4 linked regions of the Homo sapiens genome follow. The protein of the gene in region 1 interacts with the protein of each later gene in a pairwise test. Each region holds a gene or a part of one and is shown in the gene's direction. Other genes may lie near its edges. The genes, in order: KHDRBS3, PSMF1, ZNF575 and DOCK2.

Region 1 (5,693 bases):
ACACTCGTTTTTCTTCTAAATTTTTTTAGGAATGCCAGCCCTTAATTTGAAGACCATTTTTTAAAACTCTGTGGCTACATGTACCTCTGTGGAAAAATTGCACATTGCTACTTGGTATATTAGGTCAGCTGTAGTAGTGACTATTCTGTAATGTGTTAAGCCAGCGGAGCTTAACACAGCCCATTTCAGAGAGCTTATTTTATACAGAGAGCTCAAATCATAACCTCCGTGTTACACCGTATTTAATTAGCTTGTAAGGATATGATTAAGCCAGGATAACAAGGTGGGGCCTATATTCTATGTGTGGAAGAAGTATTCTAAGGAATATTCCGGTCCAGGCATTTGTCTTTTTTTTTTTTTTCTGTGATGGAGTCTCGCTCTGTCGCCAGGCTGGAGTGCAGTGGCACAATCTCAGCTCACTGCAACGTCCGCCTCCTGGGTTCAAGCAGTTCCCCTGCCTCAGCATCCCAAGTAGCTGGGACTACAGACGTCACCACACCCAGCTAATTTTTATATACTTTTTTTTAGTAGAGACAGGGTTTCACCATGTTGGCCAGGATGGTCTCGATCTTCTGACCTCGTGATCCGCCCGCCTCAGCCTCCCAAAGTGCTGAGATTACAGGCATGAGCCACCGCGCCTGGCCTGGTCCAGGCATTTTTCATCAATACTTACTATATTTGATTGAACTGCTTGTTGACACCTAGATTTTCCAACCTGTTTCCTGCCTCTGCTTTGCATATTCTGTTTCTTCTGCCTGGAAGACCCTTGCTGCCATTGCCTCTGTCCATTCCTTCTCCACCTGTCTTCACCTTCACCCTCAGAACACTGTGCAAGCACTGCATGCTCCAAGCCATTCATGACACACTACACTAGAGTGATGGAGGTGCCCCTTCTCCGTATACCCACTTAACATATGTAACGTGAGGGTCTCCTCCAGGCCAAAAGAATGAGAACCAGGGCATGCTGTCGTGGGAAACCAACCTCACTCAGGGATACCAGCAAGGTTCTCTTTGGAAGTGGCATTTAGGTTAAGGGCTTGAGTTGGAAATAGCCTGGAGGACAGGAGAGAAGGGCCTTCTGGCAGAAAGAGTAGCAAATATAAAAACTCATGCCCACATGTTTGAGATAAAAAGGAACATAGCTCCATTGCTTACACTTTTCTCATAGGAATGGCCATGCTGTGCCGTAGTCATTAAATGTGATGATTAGTCTCTGGTGTCATTTTCCTGAGAAAGAAAACGTGGGGGAAAAACTCCGTGTGGTTGTGACCACAAGTCTGGCCTGTGTAGTCACAGAGATTCAGTTATACTGTTCTCCATGCAATTTAGCCTGGCTTCTTAGCTCTTCTGGTCTGCAGTATCCTTATCTGTCAAATGGGTATGGCAGTTTTACTATCCGAGGCCGGGGGTGATGTGGGATCTCAGCGGCTGGTGTTCAGTAGACATTCACAGCAAGCATCTGTGCTCCTCAAACTGTGACTTCCTGAGGTGTTAAACATCTGAGCTGGATCATTTTCCATTTTGATTAGAAACCTCTTGATTGTATGAAATTGGAAGAATGGGGATGTTTATTTCCATGACAGTCTAAGATAACAAATTCAGGATGGTGGTTTCCCTACAAAATGGAGTGGGAAAGAGGAAAGCCTGAGAGGGTACATGGAAACTCTTTCTCAAATACTCAGAATGGTTATGGCTGAGTAATCTAGACTTTTCACAAGTCTATTCCTGTAAAAAATTATTCCTAGTTCAAATACATTGTATATATGTAGGCTGTTTTGCATCATCTGCAAAATGGCAGTGAGAACTCTTCCCTCTTGCTGTCAGTGATGGCTCTTTCCTCGTGCTCTCTCAAGGATGTTGTACATTGGAACGTGGATTTGCCTGTACTTTGAAAAGATCCTTGGCCTCATGTAACCAGACTTGTGACTGGACTGCAGAGATCCATTTCCCTGCTCTCCTGTCCCATGTGGCCATGGCTGCTGAGTCCTCTTTTCCCAGCAGCTTCCGGATGGTGATGCAACAGTGCCGGTCAAAGAAAACATTTCATCTGGGCATTTGTTTTTAATGTACTATAAAGTACAGCACCCACAATTCATGCAGCACCGGGTTCTCTGGTAGACGAGGGTGTAAGAAGAAATAAAGTCTTTGCCTTCTGTAAACATCCCATCTATTGGAAAGGAGGTGTTTACCTCCTCCCCCACTCCCACAGTGCCTTGCACAGGCCCAGCCCTAGCTCTTGGCACACTGGGCTAGAATTGTCCACACACATCCTCCCTCTCCGCAGACTCCCAGTCTTCCCAGGTCAGGTGCTGTCTTTGTATTCCCTCGTGCACTTTTAGGCACTTACTGTGTGTTGCGTGGCCAATTGTTGTGGTTAAAATGTCGAAACATATTTATTATGTATTAAAATTAGGGAGCTAGACAAGGGTCCTTTGATAATCCCAAAGTTGACACTTCTGCTTTAGAACTCTGTGATCTCGGTGGGAATTTCTTTGAATTTTCAGTCTTGCCCTTCATTAGTTGTCTTTAAGTTTTACAATACGTTATTGAATACTGTTGAAACTCACAGCCAGATGATTTTGTCCTTTGTTTTGTTTTGATCACTTGCAGTGGTGCTGATTACTATGATTACGGACATGGACTCAGTGAGGAGACTTATGATTCCTACGGTGAGTGACTGGCCAGAGCATGTGAAGAGAGGGAGGAGAGATGGCCGTAGAAAGACCTTAAAGATATTAATGGGAAGAGAATAAGGACATTTGGACTCTGAAACAGCAGCTTCCTGTCAATTCATTTGTGCATGTCTAGCTATTTTTAGGGCTCCTTTATTATATAAATATTTGAAGAGGACTAAAGACTTGCTGAAGATTGCATGAATCCAGATTCTGAACTTAAATTTTATGTTTGAGTTGGTCGCCGTGTGCTGATTTTCTCACAGAGTAGTTTTTCAAACTTCAGACACTTGATAGCTGGGTCTTTTTGAAGTGTCTTTGTTTCCTGACAGTGAAGGGAAATGAAGCAATTGAGACTACAGCTCTAAAGTGATTCTCCCACCTTCATCTTTATGTTTTAATTCATTTCCAATCTCAAACCCTCTGAAAAAAATTACACTGGGAGTCATTTCATAAAGGTTACAAAAGCACTGAGCCAAGGAGGAGATACAGGGTCTGTAAGCTTTACAAAGGGCAGCAGCTAAACCCCTCTTAATTCAGTGGAGCTGGTAGAGATGCTGGGGACTTCATGTCCAAAGTCTCACTATGCAGAACGATGACAGGTTTAATAATTAAAAGAATTGGCGGCAGCAACATAATGGTAGTAAGAAGAGCCCTTGCCGCAGGGCAAGGAGATCAGAGAACATGAAGCTTCAATCAGTTGCAAAGCTCTGATGAATCCCTGGTACCCGGTGCAAGTATATCAGGATTGTGGTTAATGGATGTTAGGACATTTCTCTTAACAGAACGGAAAAACCATTTTCCGGCGTTAAACCTTTTGAAGTGCATTTTGTTGTATCACCTGCCTGAAGCTGTGATGGCTGCACCTTGGATTTTTTTTTTTTTTTTTTTTTTTTTTTTTTGTTATCCGTAACAAACACTTAAGAGAAATATGTTGGTTTGCTGAATGCAGGCTACCTAAATTGATGCAAGTTAGCTTGAGGGAGTGACGTTGATTGCATGTTTTGTATCAAAAGAAGAGGTCATTTTAAGCATTTTTCCTTCACAGCTTTTTAAATTGGTCTCTGTGGACACATGGCTTTTAAATTGCTGTATGTTGCAGCAGGGATGTTAACTGTTTGATGTCCAAGACTTATAGATAACTCATTAAAAGTTATCTTCAGGCTGAACAGGTGTTTAATTTCAGGAGATAAAGATGATAGAATGTCCCTGGTTATTAATACCTTTGTTCAGTACGGATTTAGCATTATGATGAATGAAATCTGACATTATGTCGTTAAATTCATTTCATATTCATGAAGTGCTATTGAGAAGTGAAGTTCAACCCAATGCAACTTTCCTTCAGTCTTTCCGTGAAAGCGCCTGTGAAAAATGAGGTCATATTTCCCTTTCTCAGTCTGCCCCTTCCCGTTTTGCTCTCCGGTTTTCTTCTTTGTCTTCACAGATGTTTACCTATGTTTTTTCTTTGTTTTTGCTGTTGGAAGACATCTAAGTGATCCTTTTCCCATTCTCTTTTTCACTCATAAATGTCCTGATGTTTAGCAAAAGGCAGTTCTCTTTGCTACTTGAGCTTGTAAACTGTTGTTAAATGAGTAACCAAAAGGAAAGTCCTTGCGAAGTTGGTTACCATTTCAGATACAAGAACCGTTTATCTTCCCACGCTGACGAATTTTGCGAGTGAGATGATTATTTTTCCTTGTGTTTGTAATTTATTTAAGTAAATTCCTTGTTTGTTTTTCTTTTCAGTACACCAGGGGTATATATTTTCAATATGACATGTACCTTTGGTTCAGGGCTAAGTTAGAGTCTGAAAAATGAAGCCTGTGGGATTCATGGCAGTGATCTAATTGTGATTCATCTTACTGATTGTAGGGCAAGAAGAGTGGACTAACTCAAGACACAAGGCACCTTCAGCGAGGACAGCAAAGGGCGTCTACAGAGACCAGCCATATGGCAGATACTGATTGTACTGTCTGATGTTGTGAAATAGCCAATCTCCACCAGTCCTGTATACTGTTCAAAGTAATTTTTTTCTATGAACAATCCCTTTTTAAATAAATCAGAATGCTTAAAATCTGAATGGATGGAACTTAAAACTACTTTGTTGAAACATCAACCTGGGCAGAAAAAAAAAAAAAAAGACATGTAAAATTTTGTTATTTCCAGTCTGTATATGAAAAAATAGGTCATCAAAAGGAAAAAAAATAACTTTGATTAACTAGTGTTAAACAAAAAATAGGTTTACTAAATATGTTAATCTATTCTTTTAACATAAGCCTCACCTTTCATTTTAAAGGTTTCCATAGAATTTAGTTATTTTATCTTTCAGCCATATGCTAGTTTTTTTTTCTCTTGCCAACATGCGTAAAAAGGGAAGCCAATTACAAGTGCAAATAATGTGGTATTCTTTTGTAACTCAAGTCTTGAAATGTTCTGTAGTGTTAAGCAAAGTCTCCTCTTGCTTGATACTAAATAAACTTTTGAAAGAAATTTTGTGTGTGTGAGCTAACAATTTCATGGGTTTTTTTTTATTTAAAAAGGCCTTCATAAATAGTTGTAAACAGGGAAAGAATTCATTTAACAATGCTTGTCATAAAAGGGTCACACTAAACATTGTACAACTTATTTTAAAAATGGTATAAAATTAAATGTACCATTATATACTCACCATAGATTTAAATGCTGTTTAAAGAGTCCAAATGGTATCGAGCTGCTTGAGTGGCACGTTAAACTACGCAAAACCAAATCTTGTTTAAAAACTGGTTTTAAAATAACTACTGGATTTTCTGAAAAAGATGTGATCAGTTTTCATCTTGTTGAGCGTTTTTTCACTAGTGCAACTTTGGATTTTTTATGAGAATTTTGGTACCTTAATGAACACCTCGCTCCATGCTGGAAGCACTAAGCACAAAGCTTTTAAAGACTTTCTGGCTTGACTAATTGAGGTCGCACTCGCCAAGGCTGAGGATGTGTAACCCTTAAACGGTCTTCATTTTCAAAGGTAAATAAATCAAATAAGAT
Region 2 (7,761 bases), on another chromosome or scaffold:
CCACGCCCGGCTAATTTTTTGTATTTTTAGTAGAGACGGGGTTTCACTGTGTTAGCCAGGATGGTCTCGATGTCCTGACCTCGTGATCCGCCCGCCTCAGCCTCCCAAAGTGCTGGGATTACAGGCGTGAGCCACCGCGCCCGGCCTGGGTTACGGACTTTCTAAGGCATGGCTTACCCCCGGTCAGGGGTGTGGGAGGACAGAGCAGATCGCACTACAACACCCTCATCACCCTTCAGCAGTCACCTCTAGACGCAAAGACTGCTTTCTCTAAATTATGCAACTCTGTGCCTGAGGGCCTTCCAGGACCCCAGAAGCAGCTCTCAGCCTGTGGCAGATGCCCTCAAATGCAATAGCTCTGAGACATGCCCCACACTGCCTCCCAGAGTTCCCGGGTAGGAGTGCGGTCCAGTTGCCCGTAGAGGTAACTGGCTTCATCACACTCCCTCTGCTGGCTCCCTTTCCTTCCTGTCTCACTTCCCTACTCCACTGCCCCCACCGCTATTTCCTGGAATCAGCTCCCAAATAAACCACTCAAATCCCTGTCTCACCACGGGCTTCTGAGAGAATACATGTTAAGACAGGGATGATGGTGTAGAAGAGGGAACCAGTGTTCTGTAAGATGCCAGCTACAACCAACTGTATGCAAAGCAGTGTTGAACCAAGGGGTGGGGGTGACGGAGCTGTCTGCCCTGTAAGATGCCAGCTACAACCAACTGTATGCAAACCAGTGTTGAACCAAGGGGTGGGGGTGACGGAGCTGTCTGCCCTGTAAGATGCCAGCTACAACCAACTGTATGCAAACCAGTGTTGAACCAAGGGGTGGGGGTGACGGAGCTGTCTGCCCTGTAAGATGCCAGCTACAACCAACTGTATGCAAACCAGTGTCAAGGGGTGGGGGTGACGGACCTGTCTGCCCTGTAAGATGCCAGCTACAACCAACTGTATGCAAAGCAGTGTTGAACCAAGGGGTGGGGGTGACGGAGCTGTCTGCCCTGTAAGATGCCAGCTACAACCAACTGTATGCAAACCAGTGTTGAACCAAGGGGTGGGGGTGACGGAGCTGTCTGCCCTGTAAGATGCCAGCTACAACCAACTGTATGCAAACCAGTGTTGAACCAAGGGGTGGGGGTGACGGAGCTGTCTGCCCTGTAAGATGCCAGCTACAACCAACTGTATGCAAACCAGTGTTGAACCAAGGGGTGGGGGTGATGGAGCTGTCTGCCCTGTAAGATGCCAGCTACAACCAACTGTATGCAAACCAGTGTTGAACCAAGGGGTGGGGGTGACGGAGCTGTCTGCCCTGTAAGATGCCAGCTACAACCAACTGTATGCAAAGCAGTGTTGAACCACGGGGTGGGGGTGACGGAGCTGTCTGCCCTGTAAGATGCCAGCTACAACCAACTGTATGCAAACCAGTGTTGAACCAAGGGGTGGGGGTGACGGAGCTGTCTGCCCTGTAAGATGCCAGCTACAACCAACTGTATGCAAACCAGTGTTGAACCAAGGGGTGGGGGTGACGGAGCTGTCTGCCCTGGTGCAGACAAGGAGTAGGTACATTTGCTGTAGAAAACGTAAAGGCAGTAACAAAACAGACCAAAGGCCAGTCCACTTTTTACTGTCATCATGTACCAGCAATTTGAATCAACTTCATTGATAAAATTCTCCACCTGACTAAGGCTGATAGCTCTCACTGTCCCATGCCCACCCCTTGAAAGCCCACTGATGCCAAGCACACTGAGGAAAGTGCAATTAATCATGGGCAAAGAGACGAGGGAAACCTCACTCAGGAGGCAACATTGACCTTGTAATCCCACAGAGCTAGCTGCATTCCACCATGCCTTTGCACATACTGTTTCCTTTTACTGGAACACCTTTTGATCCTTAATCCACTTTTTTTTTTTTTTTGAGACAGTCTCTCTTTATCACCCAGGCTAGAGTGCAGTGGCTTGATCTCGGCTCACTGCAACCTCTACCTCCCGGGTTCAAGCGATTCTCCTGCCTCAGCCTCCCGAATAGCTGGGATTACAGGTGCCTGCCACCACGCCCGGCTAATTTTTGTATTTTTAGTAGAGACAGGGTTTCACCATGTTGGCCAGGCTGGTCTTGAACTCCTGACCTCGTGATCCACCTGCCTCAGCCTCCCAAAGTGCTGGGATTACAGGTGTGAGCCACCATGCCTGGCCAGTACTTTTTTTTTTTTTTAAACACTAGACAGTGAGCTCTATAGGGACAGGAACCTGTTCATCTGTGTCTGGCCCACAGTAGGCACTTAGGAATGGGCTGCCACTAAGTAGGCACCTTAAGTGGACACCCTGCACTATGGTTCATGGCAGCCCAGCCTATGAAAGTTTATTGATGGAATGAATCTGTAGAAATTTTCCATAATTGGATAAGGGCATTACAAACAGAAGGGACAGAGCAAGCAAAAGCAGGGAAGACTGAAAGTGCAGAACTTCTCAGTAGAAAGGGCAAATAGCTTTATGCCACAGGCAGTACATCTCAGAGAGGAGTTCCACAGCCACTAGCTTTAGTGTCATCCAGAATGTAGTCAACATACATGCACTCTTCCTCAGACCTTCTCATCCAGAATCTCTGCAGAAGGGGTTCAAGAATCTGGTTGTCTCAAGGAAACTTTAGGAACACAAAATTTGGAGAGGCACAGGGCCAGCTGACAAAGGGAGTGATGGACTATAAAGAGGTAAGAGTGCCCTGACTGGGTTGGGGCTAGGCCAAGAATTCATTCCTTCATTCAGTATTCATTCTGTCTTTCAATAAGTATAGATTGATCCCAGAAGGCACTCAGGTACATATGTGCACAAGGTAGACATGCTCCCTGTTCCTTTGTCACAGTCTAGTGGAAAGACAGTCATTAAATAAGCAAAGAAATAAACACCTAACATAGTTTCAGGTTATGATTAATGCTTTGCAGGAAAAAAAAAAAGCCAGAGAGGGATTAAAGACGGGAGAAGGTTATTTTGGATGGAATGGTCTGGGAAGCCCTCTGTTGAGGATGGTAGGAGTGAGGGATGAAGCCACTTGAAATGAAGAAGCAAGACATGCAGATATCTGGGAAAAGAGCATTCCAGGAAGAGGAACGCAAAGGCCCAAACAGAACACATGAAACAGGGAAACTGGCTGGGAAGCTACTGCAATAGTCTAAGTGTGAGATGCTGGAGGATCAGACCAGAGTGGAAGCAGTGAAGGTGATGGGAAGTGGTCAGATTCATAATATATTTTGAGAGTGGAGTCAACTAGCTTTGCTGTTGGACCAGATGTAGATGTGAGAGAAGAGGGGGAGCCAAGGTTATTGCACGTATAAAGGGGATGAGAGGACAGTTGAAGGAGACTGAATCAGAGAGGTACAGGGCTGGCAGGGCTGGGGCAGGAGATGGCAGACCACATGCAGATTCCTGCAGACCATGGGGAGGACTTTACTTTTCCATTGAGTGTGACGATTTTGAGCCAACGGATGTGATCTGACTTTTCTTTTTTTTTTTTTTTCTTTTTTGAGACAGAAGATCGCTCTGTTGCCCAGGCTGAAGTGCAATGGTGCGATCTTGGCTCACTGCAACCTCCACCTCCACCTCCCGGGTTCGATTGATTCTCATGCCTCAGCCTCCCGAGTACCTGGGACTAAAGGCGTGCGCCACCACACCCAGCTAATTTTTGTATTTTTAGTAGAGACAGGGTTTCACCATGTTGGCCAGGCTGGTCTCAAACTCCTGACCTCAAGTGATCCGCCTGCCTCGGCCTCACAAAGTGCTGGGATTACAGGCATGAGCCGCCACACCTGGCCGATCTGACTTGTTTTCTAACAGAATCTCTCTGGTTGCGGAGTGCAGTACAGACTAGAGAGAGACAGGAATGGAATGGGGCAGTTCTGAGGCTGATGCCAGGCATCCAAGTGAAAGATGACAGGAGCTTGAACCAGGTTAGTGACTGGGATGGGGAAACTAAATTTATTTGGGTAAAAACAATAAGTGGATTTCATGAAACTTGTTGAAGTAACGGGTGGTAAAAATCATAAAGGGGGTAGGCAAATAAATGATTGAAATTTGATAGTGGGTCAGGAGCTTCAGCTCTGCGGGCAGCAGTTGTGTCTCCTTGGAGAAGTGGTTTCAACTCTGAGCCGTTTTGTCATCTGCAAAATGGGGATAATAACGGTCCATACTTCATAGAGTTGTTGAGAGGGTGATGTAAAGGTTTTAGCGCACGATGTAGCACACAATAAACACTTAATAAATGTTATCTTAGAAGCCAGACTGCCAGGTTCCCATAACCATTTCAGCCGTTCACCGGCTGGCTGTTGTCATCTTGGTCAAATTATCCCTCTGCGCCTCAGTTTCCTCATCTGTGCAATGAGGCACATTAATCGTTAATATCAACTGCATAGAGTTGGGTTGTGAAGATTAAATAAATGAATACAAGTAAAGCGTTTAGAATAATGTGGACGGTAGCAAGCACGGCGAACGTGTTAACGATTATTAAGAATGTATTTTAGCCACATTTCCCAGCCCCTTCCCCGGCCTAGCATACCCCATTTTGTGGATGGGAAGTCTGCCTCTCAGCAAGGTGGCCTCTTGGAGGACGCTGTGCCCGCGTCAGGCGATCCTGTCGACTGCCGCCAAGACCCGGCTTCCGGCTTTGAGGGGCCACGCCCCGCTCGCACTCCCTGGCGGAACCTTTCAGTGCTGCGCTCGCGTTGCCAACCCGGCGCGCCTCACGCAGTTGCGCCCGCTGTTGGGACTACTTCCGGCTTCCCCGCCCCGCCCCGTCCCCGGGCGTCTCCATTTTGGTCTCAGGTGTGGACTCGGCAAGAACCAGCGCAAGAGGGAAGCAGAGTTATAGCTACCCCGGCCGCGGAGCCGGCTCACTGCACTACCCCCGCCCCCTTCTTTCCTCCAGACGCCGAAGTCGCGGGCGCTCATGGCGGGCCTGGAGGTACTGTTCGCATCGGCAGCGCCGGCCATCACCTGCAGGCAGGACGCGCTCGTCTGCTTCTTGCATTGGGAAGTGGTGACACACGGTTACTTCGGCTTGGGTGTCGGTGACCAGGTACGCCACGGAGCCGGCCAGGGTGGAGGAGGGAACTGTCTTCTGCCCAAACTCAGAGTACCGGAGGCCTGGTCCAGAGCGCCCGATTTCCCCGCTTCTCCCAGTGCAGGGTCTGGGGCAGATGGCAGCGTTGGTAAAACCTGCGGGTCGGAGGTTGCTCACCTGCCCCATCCCAGCCCAGAGTCCCTCACGGCACAGCTGGCACAACATGATTTGTAAACTCAAGGGCGGACACTCGCTTCAACACAGCCTGGCAGCCTCTCAGGCCAGGACTGTGTGGATCTAGCATTCCATAGAATGGCAAAGAATCTAGACAGGAGTTTAGCTCCCCAGAGCACTTCTCACCCACCTGATCCCGTCTGAACTCCTTACCACCCAGCCTCGGGGTGAGGGGACTGACTCAGTTCCGCCCTCATACCACAGTAGAGCCTCCACCAAACATCTGGATCCAAGCACAGGTACAGGAGTGAGCTTTGACCTACTCAGCCCCAGGCCAGGGCCCTTTTTTCACCCGTTAGCATGGGCCCAGAGAGTTCACACGCCTTTCACCCTTTACTGAAGGGCCCAGCATAGTCCACTCGCTACTGCCATCCCCAACTCAAGCTCTAGGAAGCAATCACCCCCAGAGTCGTACACACATACACCCTGGGTGTGAGGGTCATATAAGATTTTCTCCTCATAGTTGTCCCCATAGGGCCAGCCCCTCTTCTCCCATCCCCAGGCTCCACCTCTTACAGCTAGGGACGTCGTTGTCATCCCCACAGAGTTCTAGGACTGCTGGACCCAACCCACCTCACTAATTCTTTGCTCTGGCATTCTTCTTTCTTTCCTGTCTCTTCCCTGTGACCCTCATCCCCAACATCCACATCATCCTAGACATCTGCTTCCTGGGAGAAGTGGGCCTGCCTCCATGCCTGCCCCTCACTGTCACTGTTCTCTCACTCTCAGAACCAAGACTAGCCATGGGAAACAGACCACCCCACCTATTGCATCTTGCCATGAGATTTCACCCTTCCTCTCCTTTTTGACTGCTTCAGTTCTCAACTCCTCTAATCATTTTTTTTAGCTTCTCAAATAGAGTCTTAATTCTCCCCTCCTGACATAGCTTTAGGGACCTCTCTTCAAACTTGCTTTGTACATTCTGAGCACTTAGACAAGTATCCCCTTTCCCCCACCCCTCACTGCTGTCCCTATTCCTCTCTGTCTCTTAGAACTAAAGACCAAGACCACCATACCCCTCTCACACTTTACCCCCTCCAGCAGGAATCAGAACACAAGAACCGTCAGGGATTTCTGGCTCTTTTTTTCCCCAGACCTCAATTATCTCACTGGGACCCCAGGTACACACTCAGGATCCCCATTCCCACCTCCAAACTCACACATACTTCATCTCTCAAATGGGCTCTAAGACTAGATATGAGGATGGAAAAGAACAGCTAGCCTTTCACACACACATACCTGGAAGCAGGAATCATTTCACCTTCCCAAACACATCTGTCCCTGACCTTTCTCTTTGTGCTGCTCTTCATTCCACATACCTTCCAAATGTCTTCCAGCATTTCAGACCTTGGGACCAGGTAGAGACAGCACCCCCATTTCAGCGTCAGGCCCCTCTTTCAATGCATAGTTCCCCTAACAGAAATCTTGTCTCCCCACTTGTCTTACTCCAGCTTTTTAATCTTAAGCAGCTCTTCACTTGCCCCAGTCATTTTATTTCAACTTTTCCTAGATTCTTCAAAGAAACTGGTATGTGGGATGGTGCAGGGGACAGTGGGGCTGAGAAGAGGAGTAAGATTTGATTTTGACCTGGGATCTCCTCCATTGGCCCTCAGCTCCCCCTGCCCTTTGTCTTGTCCTTCAGATGGAACAGCTCTGCTTTGCACTCTGTCCCTCCTCATGTACCTCACTCCCCTTACCTACTCCTAGCTAGCTACTTAGACTCTGCCACACTGTCAGAACCCCATCCACCTCTGCTGAGGAACTTGTTCTAGAGGGCGTGTCTGATACCCTTCTCTCCTTGCCATTCCACAAATAAATATCAATCACTGTGGATCTGCTCCTACATTTCTTACCCTCACTCATGCTGTCTGAATCACTTTGACAGTTTAGGGACATGAGTTCACATAAGTCGATACCTTCTAGCTGGCATTACCACCTTGCCATACACTCAAGGCTCCAAAATTTTCAGATGAAATGTACAGAAAGAATACAATCTCATTTTAATAGTTTTTTTTTTTTTTAAAAAGGTCCTTGACCAATTCCCCAAGGTCCATCTAATTTTTCTCTGTTCATGGTGCTATTCGTTGAGCTTCTGCAGGCCAGAAAAAGATGCTGGTTTCAGACATCTTTGGGGAGGCCCAGGAGCCTGGGGAATTAGGTTTTTGTAAGGCATTGCCACCTTTCCTCTATCTACCCCAGCACTAAATCTTGCATGCCCCCGAAGGAATGAGTGTTTGGATTGCAAACTAGAGTGTGGTGTATTTTTGCTTCTCTCTGCCTTTTCTCCTTGATTGCCATTGGGGCTCAGGTTGCACTTGTCCTTCTGTCGCTTCTGCTGAGTCTACTTTCATTCAGAGTGGAAACTGGAGAGGCATCTTTCCTATTAGTTTATTTAAGAAGAGGTTTAATTTTTCAGCCTGGGGCCAGCCAACTCAGCTGACTCAATTGTGTTTTCCAAGCTCAGAGGATATTTGTGTTGCCTCT
Region 3 (7,681 bases), on another chromosome or scaffold:
GTAGAAACAGGGGTCTTGCTATGTTGCCTAGGCTGGTCTCCAGCTCCTGGCCTCAAATGGTCCTCCCACCTGGGCCTCCCAAAATGCTGGGATTACAGGTATGAACCACTGAGTTATCCTGTCCCACAGCTTCTGAGGAGGGGTTTCCTGCAACAACATTTATCTTAATTCTGGAGTTTCCAGGGAATGGTCCCTGGAGCTATTTTCAGAGCAGCCCCTGTGTGAATGCCTTTACACAGAGAAGGCCTGCTTTTCCTTAAGCCTATCAAATTGCTTCATTAAAATTTTATGTGGCCGGCTGGGCGCGGTGGCTCATGCCTGTAATCCCAGCACTTTGGGAGGCTGAGGCGGGCGGATCACGAGGTCAGGAGTTCAAGACCAGCCTGACCAACATGGTGAAACACCATCTCTACTAAAAATATAAAAATTAGCTGGGTGTGGTGGTGCACACCTGTTATCCCAGCTACTCAGGAGGCTGAGGCAGGAGAATTGCCTGAACTCGGGAGGTGGAGGTTGCAGTGAGCTGAGATCGTGCCACTGCATTCCAGCCTGGGTGATGGAGACTCCATCTCAAAAAAAAAAAAAAAAAAAAAAAAAAAGCATATGGCTGAGCTCATGCACAGGCACTTTGAGCACTTTGGGAGGCCTAGGTGGGCAGATCACTTGAGGTCAAGAGTTTGAGACAGCCTGGCCAACATGGTAAAACCCCATCTCTACTGAAAAAAATAAAATAAAATACAAAAAAATTATCTGGGCGTGGTGGGGCACGCCTGTAGACCCAGCTACTTGGGAAGCTGAGGCATGAGAATCATTTGAACCCAAGAGGCAGAGGTTGCAGAGTTTGCAGTGATCCAAGATTGCACCTCTGCAACATAGCAAAACCCTGTCTGGGCAACAGAGCGAGAGTGTCTAAAAAAAAAAGGCCAGGTGCGGTGGCTCACGCCTGTAATCCCAGCACTTTGGGAGGCCAAGGCGGGTGGATCACGAGGTCAGGAGATTGAGACCATCCTGGCTAACACGGTGAAACCCCGTCTCTACTCAAAAAAAATACAAAAAATTAGCCGGGCATGGTGGCGGATGCCTGTAGTCCCAGCTACTCTCGAGGCTGAGGCAGAAGAATGGCGTGAACCCGGGAGGCGGAGCTTGCAGTGAGCCGGGATCGTGCCACTGCACTCCAGCCTGGACGACAGAGCGAGACTCCGTCTCAAAAAAAAAAAAAATTCCAGGCATGAGGTCTCATGCATGCCTGACTCAAGCTAGACAAAGCTGAGGACCCAGAGGTGACTCAGTCTGGCTGGTAGGCGAGAGAGGTAGGGAAAGCAGGTCTGAGACACAGGGAGGTGTAGGGATTTGGGGAACTCAGGGGAGGGAGGAGCCAGGGAAAGGAAGACCCTCAGGCACTCCTTACTGAGAGGGTCCCCCAAATAAGAACTTCTCGCCCCTGGCACCCTTTCCCGTTGTTTTTGCAGAATTTCTAGACCATTTATGTGTCCTTTGAAGACACACCCTAGGCAGGGTTTATAGGCTCAGCTGTGAGATGTTCTAAGAGTTAGACTTGGCTTCACCCTTCTCAGGTGTAGGACCTTGGGCTGAAAACTTATCTTCTTCTGGGTTCCAGTTTTCTTATCTACAAAATGAGGTTGAAAATAGTTCAATAGCCTGACATAGCACAGGCTCTCAATGGGAACTGCCCATCATTATTTTGTCACTATCCTTGACTCCTTCCTACCCTTGCCACCTCCACCCACTTCCAGGCCCTGCTGAGTTAAACTCTCTCTCTTTTTTTTTTTTTTTTTTTTTGAGATGGAGTCTTGCTCTGTTGCCCAGGCTAGAGTGCGGTGGTGCAATCTCAGCTCACTGCAACCTCCGCCTCCTGGGTTCCAGAGATTCTTCTGCCCCAGCCTCCCAAGTAGCTGGGATTACAGGTGCACACCACCACACCCAGCTAATTTTTGTAGTTTTAGTAAAGATGGGGTTTCACCATGTTGGCCAGGCTGGTCTGGAACTCCTGACCCCAAGTAATCCACCTGCCTCAGCCTCCCAAAGTGCTGGGATTACAGGGCCGAGCCACCGTGCCCAGCCAGATTTAACCTATCTTAACCAGGCCACTTTTCTGTTATCACACCCTCTGCCCCATTCAAGGGGCAGCAAAGCATAAATGCAAATTGCCTGGACTGCAGGGCCAGGCTGAGGGATTCAAATCCTGGCTCTGATACTTCCTGGCTGGGATGACCTTCCCCTCCACACTTCATTTTCCTCCTCTGTACAAGGATGATAGTAGCACCTCCTCTTAAAACATTGCTATGGGGATTAAATAAATTAATGCACATAAGGACAGTTTCCAGTGTATAATAAGTGCTAGCAATTAATACTGTAATTAATATATAACAATACCCTCACTGGTCTTCTGGCTTCTACTCTGCCTTCTTAAAATCATGGTTCTTGAAAATAGCTGTGGCCCTAGAGGTTGGGCGCGGTGGCTCACACCTGAAATCCCAGCACCATGGGAGGCCGAAGTGGGCGGATCACCTGAGGTCAGGAGTTTGAGACCAGCCTGGCCAACATGGTGAAACTCCATCTTTACCAAAAATACAAAAAAAAAAAAAAAAATTAGCCAGGCGTGGTGACGGGCACCTGTAATCCCAGCTACTCAGGACGTTGAAGCAGGAGAATCACTTGAACCTGGGAGGTGGAGGTTACAGTGGGCTGATATCTCGCCACTGCACACCAGCTTGGGTGACAGAGCAAGACTCCGTGCAAAAAAAGAAAGAGGTGGGCACAGTGGCTCACCCCTGTAATCCCAGCACTTTGGGAGGCCAAGACGGGTGGATCACGAGGTCAGGAGATCGAGACCAGCCTGGCCAACATGGTGAAACCCTGTCTCTACTAAAAATACAAAAATTAGCTGGGTGTTGTGGTGAACACCTGTAATCCCAGCTACTTGGGAGGCTGAAGCAGGAGAATCGCTTGAACTCGGGAGGCAGAGGTTGCAGTGAGCCAAGATTGCGCCACTGCACTCCAGCCTGGGGGACACAGCGAGATTCCATCTCAAAAAAAAGAGAGAGAGAGAGACCGAAGTGTCACTTCAAACTAATACAATGTGTGGAGCTCATTTAGATCTTAAGTCAAGCAAATCAAGTGTAATAAAAAGATATTTATGAGATATGATGTTTGACATTTAGCTTCAGAATCATTTGGGAAGAGTGGATGGGGGGTAAATCAAACAATACTGGTCATGAGTGAATAATTATTTTAAAAACTTTTTTTTTAAAGATACGGGGTATCACTCTGTTGCGCAGGCTGGAATGCAGTAACACAATCATAGCTCATTGCAGACATGAACTCCTGGGTGAGTCCCCACTCCCTACCCCCGTGAAATAGCTGGGACTACAGGCTGCCATTAAGCCAGACTTTTTTTTTTTTTTTTTTTTTTTTTTTAAGATGGGGAGGTGTCTCACTATGTTGCCTAGGCTGGGATTTTTGTTTGTTTGGGTTTTTGGTTTTTTTGTTTTTTTGAGACGGAGTCTCACTCTGTTGCCCAGGCTGGAGTGCAGTGGCTTGATCTTGGCTCACTGCAACCTCTGCCTCCCAGGTTCAAGCCATCCTCCCACCTCAGCCTCCGGAGTAGCTGAGATTACAAGCGTGTGCCACCATGCCTGACTAATTTTTGTATTTTTAGTAGAGACGGGTTTTCACCATGTTGGCCAGGCTGGTCTCGAACTCCTGACGTCAGGTGATCCGTCCACCTCCGCCTCCCAAAGTGCTGGGATTACAGGCGTGAGCCACCGTGCCTAGCCCCCGTCTAGTTTGGAAATCCTGGGCTCAAGTGATTCGCCCGCCTCTGCCTCCCAGAGTGCTGGGATTACAGGCATGAGACAGGGAGCCCGGCCTAGGCACTTTCTAGTCTAAACACTTTCCATTGATTATCATATTTAATCCTAAAAACGCTCCATTTTATAGATGAGGAAACAGGCCTAGAAAGAGAGCTAGAAAGGGTCACACGGCTAGAAAGTGGCACAGCCGTATTCCAAACCAGTTACCCAGGCAATCTGGCTCCAGAGTCCAAATAACCCCGCCAAACTCCCAGGGATCGCCAGACCTTGCGGGTTATCGGACTGAGACCCACCCATGCAGAGGACTTTTATGGGCATTTCCTGGTCCTTTCTGCACCAGGCAGGAAGGTGCACCGCCACTGCTCGGGAAGAATGCTAAGCTGCATGCCACCCCAGGCCTGGCACCAAGAGCATGGGCCAGGGCACCTCGGGACCACCCAGGCTTCCGAGGGGGAAGGTAGATGGGTGCGTGGCTGAGAATCTTGAATCACCCAATAGCGAGGTGTGCCAAGGCGCTGTGCAAATAACGTGCCTTTTATTGGGCACTGGCTCTCTTTGAGCCCGGAGTCCCGCCCCCGCCCTCTCTCGAAGAACTGGCCAGACTTTTTGCAAACGCCTTGAAGGGTAGAATTAGCAGCGAGCTCTTGAAACTGCCTCTGGAGATGGAACTCAGCGGAATTCTCGAAAAGAAGAGGGACATTAAAAAGACGGGTGCATGCACTGATTTCCAAGCGCAGTTTGTCCATGTTAGTCTTGTACATGCTTGACTCCAGTCAGCCACCGTAGGCCCCGCCACCGGCGGTGCACTTTCTGTCGATACGGTAGCTTCGCGCTTGCTCACGAACTTGCCTGCCTGGCTGGCGCACCCAGCCCCTCCTTCCATTCCTTCTTCCCCCTCTCTGCAGCCTCTGCCAGCCCGCACTGCGCATGCTTTCTGACGCCCCCTTTGGTCCAGCGTGGGAGGAGGGGATGGAAATGAGGTTGGGCTAAGCAGCTTGCGCGCGCTCCCTTGCCTGCCCTCCCCCGACGCCGGACGCGCGCCGGGCGGGGCAGCTCCGCTGGTCCGAGGGCAGTGCAGCAGCGGCGACAGCGGCTGCGGCCGTGGCCGTGGCGGGAGGAGCCGGAAGCCCCGCCCCCGGGGAGGGGCCGTCCTGCAGGTGAGGGCGCAGGGGTTCGGGCGCGGATATTGGCTTGCAGGCTGAATGCCAGAATCACCCCGAGGGAGATCGGTTGTGGTCCGGACGCCTAGATTCTGGAGATGCTGGAGGGACTGTGCATTGGTGCCAGAGCCTCGGGAGGGTGCATCGGTGCCTGAATGTCTGATTCCGAGGGGTGCATTGAATCCTTTACGCTTGGGACTCTGAGGGAAAAGTCCATTAGGGGTCTCTGGACCGCGACGCATGCCAGGTTCCTTCCGTATCTTCCTCCAGGTCCCCCCTCTATCCTCCACGGCCCCATCCAAGCCAGGGATGAAATTTAACGGCAAGAAGGGCGCAGTTGACGCGGCGTCAATGAACTGAGACTAAGTCAAAAGCCGGGTAAAGCTAGGTCTTCGACGTGAAGCCCCGCCCACTGTGCCCATAGGCCCCTCCCCTGGGACGGTGATGAAAGACCTGCCCACTCCGCTCGAAGGCCCCCGCCCCCTGGGTCTAGTTTCAGAACAAGACTTTTTTTGTACAGCCCCGCCCATTCCAGGACTGCAGGGTCTGGTGGGGAAGGTCCCGCCCACTCTGCGCATAGGCCCCGCCGGCTCCGCGCTTAAGACGGCCGCTGAGTTAGTTGTGGAGACTCCGCCCACTCTGCTGAAAGACTCCAACCCTGGGTTTAGATAGCGAAGGGACTGCCTCTGGCTTGAATTTGCATAGCCCCGCTCACTGTGCTCTTAGGCTCCGCCTCCCCGCTAAGCCTGCCCCCGCCTTAGCATCCCATACTTGCAGACCTTGCTCCTAAACAGTGTGATCCCTCATTTTAGGCCCTCCAACCCTATCCCCATCAGCCTGGTCATCACCGGCGTCACCCCCGCCCCGCGCCCTGCCCCTAGGTTCCTGTGCCAGCAAGATGCTGGAGCGAGGCGCGGAGTCCGCGGCCGGGGCTACCGATCCTAGTCCCACTGGCAAGGAACCAGTGACCAAAGAAGGTGAGAGTGCCCCGCCTGTGAGTAGGGAGCATTCTCCAGGAACGGGGGCCAAAATAATCACATTCTGGGGGAATCTCAGGGTGAAAATTTGAGGGCCCTAGGGTGATGACTATTTGGGATCCCCAAAACTGCCACATTCTGGGAAATCCTCCCATTTGGCTCAGAGAGAGCCTCAGTGACCATTTGCTAAGGCTCAGGAAATGAGCCTTACAGAAGGGACGGGTCAGGGATGACATGCGGGATGTCAGGGTGATCACTGGGAAGATACTAGAAACGGATACCTTGGTAGCTTTGAGGAAGCCTTAGTAGCTTTGGGGATCCAGGAAAGTAACCCTTTGGAGTCCCTCAGAATGACGCCTGGGGGGAGGGGGGAGCAGAAACATGCAATTTGGGGAGTCTCAATGTGATGCTTGAGGTGCCCAGGTACACTTGGAGGAGCCCCACGAATATCAAAGTCGTGGCGGAGCCTGGCCTAGGCCCAGGGCGTTGGCTGCTTCCTGGAGCCCACCAGCCCTCCTGTCCCCCAGCTCCCCACCAGGGCCCACCGCAGAAGCCCAGCCAGTCAGCTCCAGGGCCCACCGCGTCCGCGGGCTCGCCTCCCCGGCCTCGCCGGCGGCCCCCGCCCCAGCGCCCGCACCGCTGCCCCGACTGTGACAAGGCCTTCTCGTACCCGTCCAAGCTGGCCACGCACCGCTTAGCACACGGAGGCGCCCGACCCCACCCATGCCCAGACTGCCCCAAGGCCTTCTCCTACCCCTCCAAGCTGGCAGCCCACCGCCTCACGCACAGCGGCGCCCGCCCGCACCCGTGCCCACACTGCCCGAAGTCCTTTGGCCACCGCTCCAAGCTGGCGGCTCACCTCTGGACCCACGCACCCACCCGCCCCTACCCGTGCCCCGACTGCCCCAAGTCCTTCTGCTACCCTTCCAAGCTGGCGGCCCACCGCCACACGCACCACGCCACCGACGCCCGCCCCTATCCTTGCCCGCATTGCCCCAAGGCTTTCTCATTTCCCTCCAAGCTGGCCGCCCATCGCCTATGTCACGACCCCCCAACCGCGCCCGGCAGCCAGGCGACTGCCTGGCACCGATGCTCCAGCTGCGGCCAGGCCTTTGGCCAGAGACGCTTACTGCTCCTTCATCAACGCAGCCACCACCAGGTGGAGCACAAGGGGGAGAGAGACTGAGCCCTCCCTTGGCTCACTGTCCCCTTCTGCCGCCAGCCCTAGCCAGTAAGAGGTGGGATTTCTAAGACCGACTGTATGAGCTCGCCTCTTCCAGATAGCTGGCAGAGGGCAGGGCAAGGGATTGGCCATTTATACTGGGCTCGAGCTCAGAAGCCCGAGGAACTCTTTGCTCCCCTGCTTTGGGGAGATCTCAAACCATGGACGTGGAGCTGTGGTTTGACAGCGCTGGCTCTGCTTCTCCCCACACACTTACATGGCAAAGGTAAAAAGTCTGCTACTATCGTGGGTTGATGAGGATTGTGGGCAAACAGGCTCTCTTGTTAAAAGTTTAAACTGGTGTCTCCACTTTGGCCATATGACGGTATCTAAGAAATTGAAAATACATACATGCTTGTCTCAACTCTTCCACTTGTAGGAATTTATTCTATAAACTCATGAATGTGAAAAAAAAGCATAGTGTTAAGGGTGTTCACTGCAGTGCGACTGTTGTGGCCAAAGACTGGAAGCAACTCAAGTGCCCAAGAA
Region 4 (2,646 bases), on another chromosome or scaffold:
CTGAACACAGCTGCAACATTTGGCCCAAGCCATTTCACTGGTATCTGCTCAGCAGGTCTCACCACACCCTGGCGGTCTGGGCTCTTTCTCCCATTTGGCCAATGTCAAAACCAGCAGTCAGAGAGTAACTAATTTTTCATGTCTCTGTGACGCCAAGCTGGGGCTGTAACCACTAGGTCATCTGGCCCCTCCACCAGGTGACACGTGGGTTTGAGACTCTCTTCCCGCTGTCTCCTGCAATGGGGAGAGAAATCCAGGGTGTTGGTGTTGGGAGCTGGAGGAAGAGTAAGCTCACACTGTCCCCTGCCTTGGAGCAGAAGGTTCTGTTTCCTGGGGATGTCAGGGCTTTGGGGCAAGGTTTTGACCAGGAGCCAGGAGGCTGAACCCTTGTCTGTAGGGTGGGCAATCTTCACTGCAAGAGGACAGCTTCAATGTCCCCTGGCACGGCAGGAAATAGGCATCCTGCCTCCTGCTTGGCACATACAATGTGTGATCCCTGGATGCTGGCTCTGTCCCCCAGCCCTCCCCCTGTCTACCTCCCCCAAGGCACTGCCCCTCCTCTACCCACCCATTCACACCCCAGCTCTGCTCTCCTTCCAGCCCTGGCGCTCTCAGTGGCAGGCATCCCTGGGTTGGATGAGGCCAACACATCTCCCCGCCTCAGCCAGACCTTCCTCCAACTCTCAGATGGTGACAAGAAGACACTCACACGGAAGAAGGTCAATCAGTTCTTCAAGACAATGGTGAGGACATTGAGGGTGGAAGGAAAGGAAGGCATTGGGAGGAGAAAGGGAAGAGAGCAATGCAGAGAGAAGAAAATGGGGGGTTGTGTGTGCATATGTGGTCATTCCTAGGGAGGCATAGTCAGGAGGCCCTGAGTTCTGGGACACTGTGCAGCAATGCCCAGAGGGCAGTTCTCCTCTGGGGCCTCAGGCAGCTCCTCTGACCAGGATTGACCCCAGCTAGGGATGTGCAGGACCCAGGGACCTCAGAAGCAGTAGGTGGCCTACCCTCGCCTAAACTGCCCCTTAGTGCTCCAGCCCTTTTTTATTCAACCTATATCACAAAATCCTACAAATTGAACATTAGTTTCCAAGCGCTGATTCTGCAAGTCCCATCTCCTATTGTTACTTGTTGGCCTTTGCTCAAGATCAAGAAGGTACCATAACACATCTGATCCTCAAGGTAATATGAAATCAGGACTCTGCTACTACAAATATCTCAAGTTTACCATGAGCACACGATGAGTCAGGCACCATGCTAAGCACTTCCCAAGCATGGTGCCATTTGAGCTCCCACTCTTAGGATTTTATATGGGAGGCTCACAGGGTTTGGTAAGTGAGGTGCCCAAGTCCACATGGCTAGTGAGCCTGGGCTCACTCTACTGTCTACCACTGCCTTTCTGGCCAAAGCCAAGGGCATAGCAGCTCACATTCACTGGGCTTTGGGCAGGGGTCAGTGTTGAGGCCCTTGTGATTAGGACTGGGAAGCTCCATTTTGGTGCTTAATCTGATAATCGCATCTTGGTTTTGTGCTTGTTTATTCTCTCAAAAGCTGGCCAGCAAATCGGCTGAAGAAGGCAAACAGATCCCAGACTCGCTGTCCACGGACCTGTGAGCTGCTGCTGACTAGGGCTGCATGGGAGAGCCAGGGAGGGGAGTTTCTGGAAGAGGAAAGCCATGCGTGGAACATCGAAGCCTCAGAGAGTGGGAGACTGTCCCCATCAGTTGTCCTTACTTAGAGGAGACAGAGAGGCCAATCAGGTCCCAGAGCTTGAATGCTAACAAGCCCAGCATCCCCTGGGGCTGTGATCATGGTGGATGAGGAAGCCTCAACGTAGATTCCTGAACTCAAGGTACCAGCAAGAATGCCTTCTCCCAGTGTGCTCTCCCCAACATCCTAGGCACAGCTTTCATAACCCAGTTTCTTAGGTGTAAGAAACTGTTTTTATCTCATTTATTAAGTCTCAGAACTTAACAGAAAAGGAAGCCTTTTAAATATTCTTTTTAATTTTATTTTAGATTAACAGTTTTGTACTTTACATTTTTTTATACAACCAACCAGTTTCTTTTCTAGCCAATCATCTCTGAAGAGTTGCTGTTTCTTACTGACAATAAAAAATGTTCTCTTGGTTCGAATAAGCCTTGTTGCCTGATTCTGTTGGCTGACTCTCCTGGGCCCAGGACTGGGCAGGAAGCTCCCTGGAAGGAAGGCAGGCCCAGGGGCTGCAGTGATGTGAAGGAGCCTGGTGATGCCCTTGCCCAATGCCAAATTTCCCCACCTCATCTATGAGAAGATTCTTCAAGAATCTCCATGACTCTTGTTCCTTAGGTGCCAAACCCTGGGCTACCAGCATGTTAAAAAAGTTGCCCTGGTCTTCCTCACGAATCTGAATAGTGGAGTGTCATACCTCCTTTCTTCACCTTTAGAAAGAGATGGCAAGACCACCCAAGCCAGGTCACTCTAGTAAAGACCAAACATAATGCCAAAGAGTTAGGAAAAGAGGGGTCTGAGGTCCAGTGGACTTATGGTCCAGCTCTTGGATCTTGTCACCGGCTCCCAAGTGGTGGCTTTTCTTGGAGGAATTCTCAGGTTTTTCAGATGAGGCCCAAAGGAGGTGAGTAGCTTTGTCAGGCAGCAGCAAGA

The links.
Region 2: the proteins of KHDRBS3 (region 1) and PSMF1 interact in a two-hybrid assay, tested with the Homo sapiens proteins (2 studies listed by BioGRID and IntAct).
Region 3: the proteins of KHDRBS3 (region 1) and ZNF575 interact in binary tests that used the Homo sapiens proteins (3 or more experiments, as listed by UniProt).
Region 4: the proteins of KHDRBS3 (region 1) and DOCK2 interact in binary tests that used the Homo sapiens proteins (3 or more experiments, as listed by UniProt).

The regions. Positions count from the first base shown.
Region 1 is NC_000008.11:135,642,449-135,648,141, forward strand, and holds the end of KHDRBS3 (KH domain-containing, RNA-binding, signal transduction-associated protein 3), read left to right. Parts: intron 1-2,610; coding exon 2,611-2,669; intron 2,670-4,544; coding exon 4,545-4,636; coding exon of another isoform or gene 4,637-4,649; 3' UTR 4,650-5,162; downstream 5,163-5,693. UniProt on the Homo sapiens protein: RNA-binding protein that plays a role in the regulation of alternative splicing and influences mRNA splice site selection and exon inclusion. Binds preferentially to the 5'-[AU]UAAA-3' motif in vitro.
Region 2 is NC_000020.11:1,113,845-1,121,605, forward strand, and holds the start of PSMF1 (proteasome inhibitor PI31 subunit), read left to right. Parts: upstream 1-4,757; 5' UTR 4,758-4,929; coding exon 4,930-5,058; intron 5,059-7,761. UniProt on the Homo sapiens protein: Plays an important role in control of proteasome function. Inhibits the hydrolysis of protein and peptide substrates by the 20S proteasome. Also inhibits the activation of the proteasome by the proteasome regulatory proteins PA700 and PA28.
Region 3 is NC_000019.10:43,528,532-43,536,212, forward strand, and holds ZNF575 (zinc finger protein 575), read left to right. Parts: upstream 1-4,656; 5' UTR 4,657-4,990; exon of another isoform or gene 4,991-5,263; 5' UTR 5,264-5,371; intron 5,372-5,805; 5' UTR 5,806-5,891; coding exon 5,892-5,970; intron 5,971-6,497; coding exon 6,498-7,156; 3' UTR 7,157-7,556; downstream 7,557-7,681. UniProt on the Homo sapiens protein: May be involved in transcriptional regulation.
Region 4 is NC_000005.10:170,081,242-170,083,887, forward strand, and holds the end of DOCK2 (dedicator of cytokinesis protein 2), read left to right. Parts: intron 1-600; coding exon 601-743; intron 744-1,554; coding exon 1,555-1,617; 3' UTR 1,618-2,141; downstream 2,142-2,646. UniProt on the Homo sapiens protein: Involved in cytoskeletal rearrangements required for lymphocyte migration in response of chemokines. Activates RAC1 and RAC2, but not CDC42, by functioning as a guanine nucleotide exchange factor (GEF), which exchanges bound GDP for free GTP.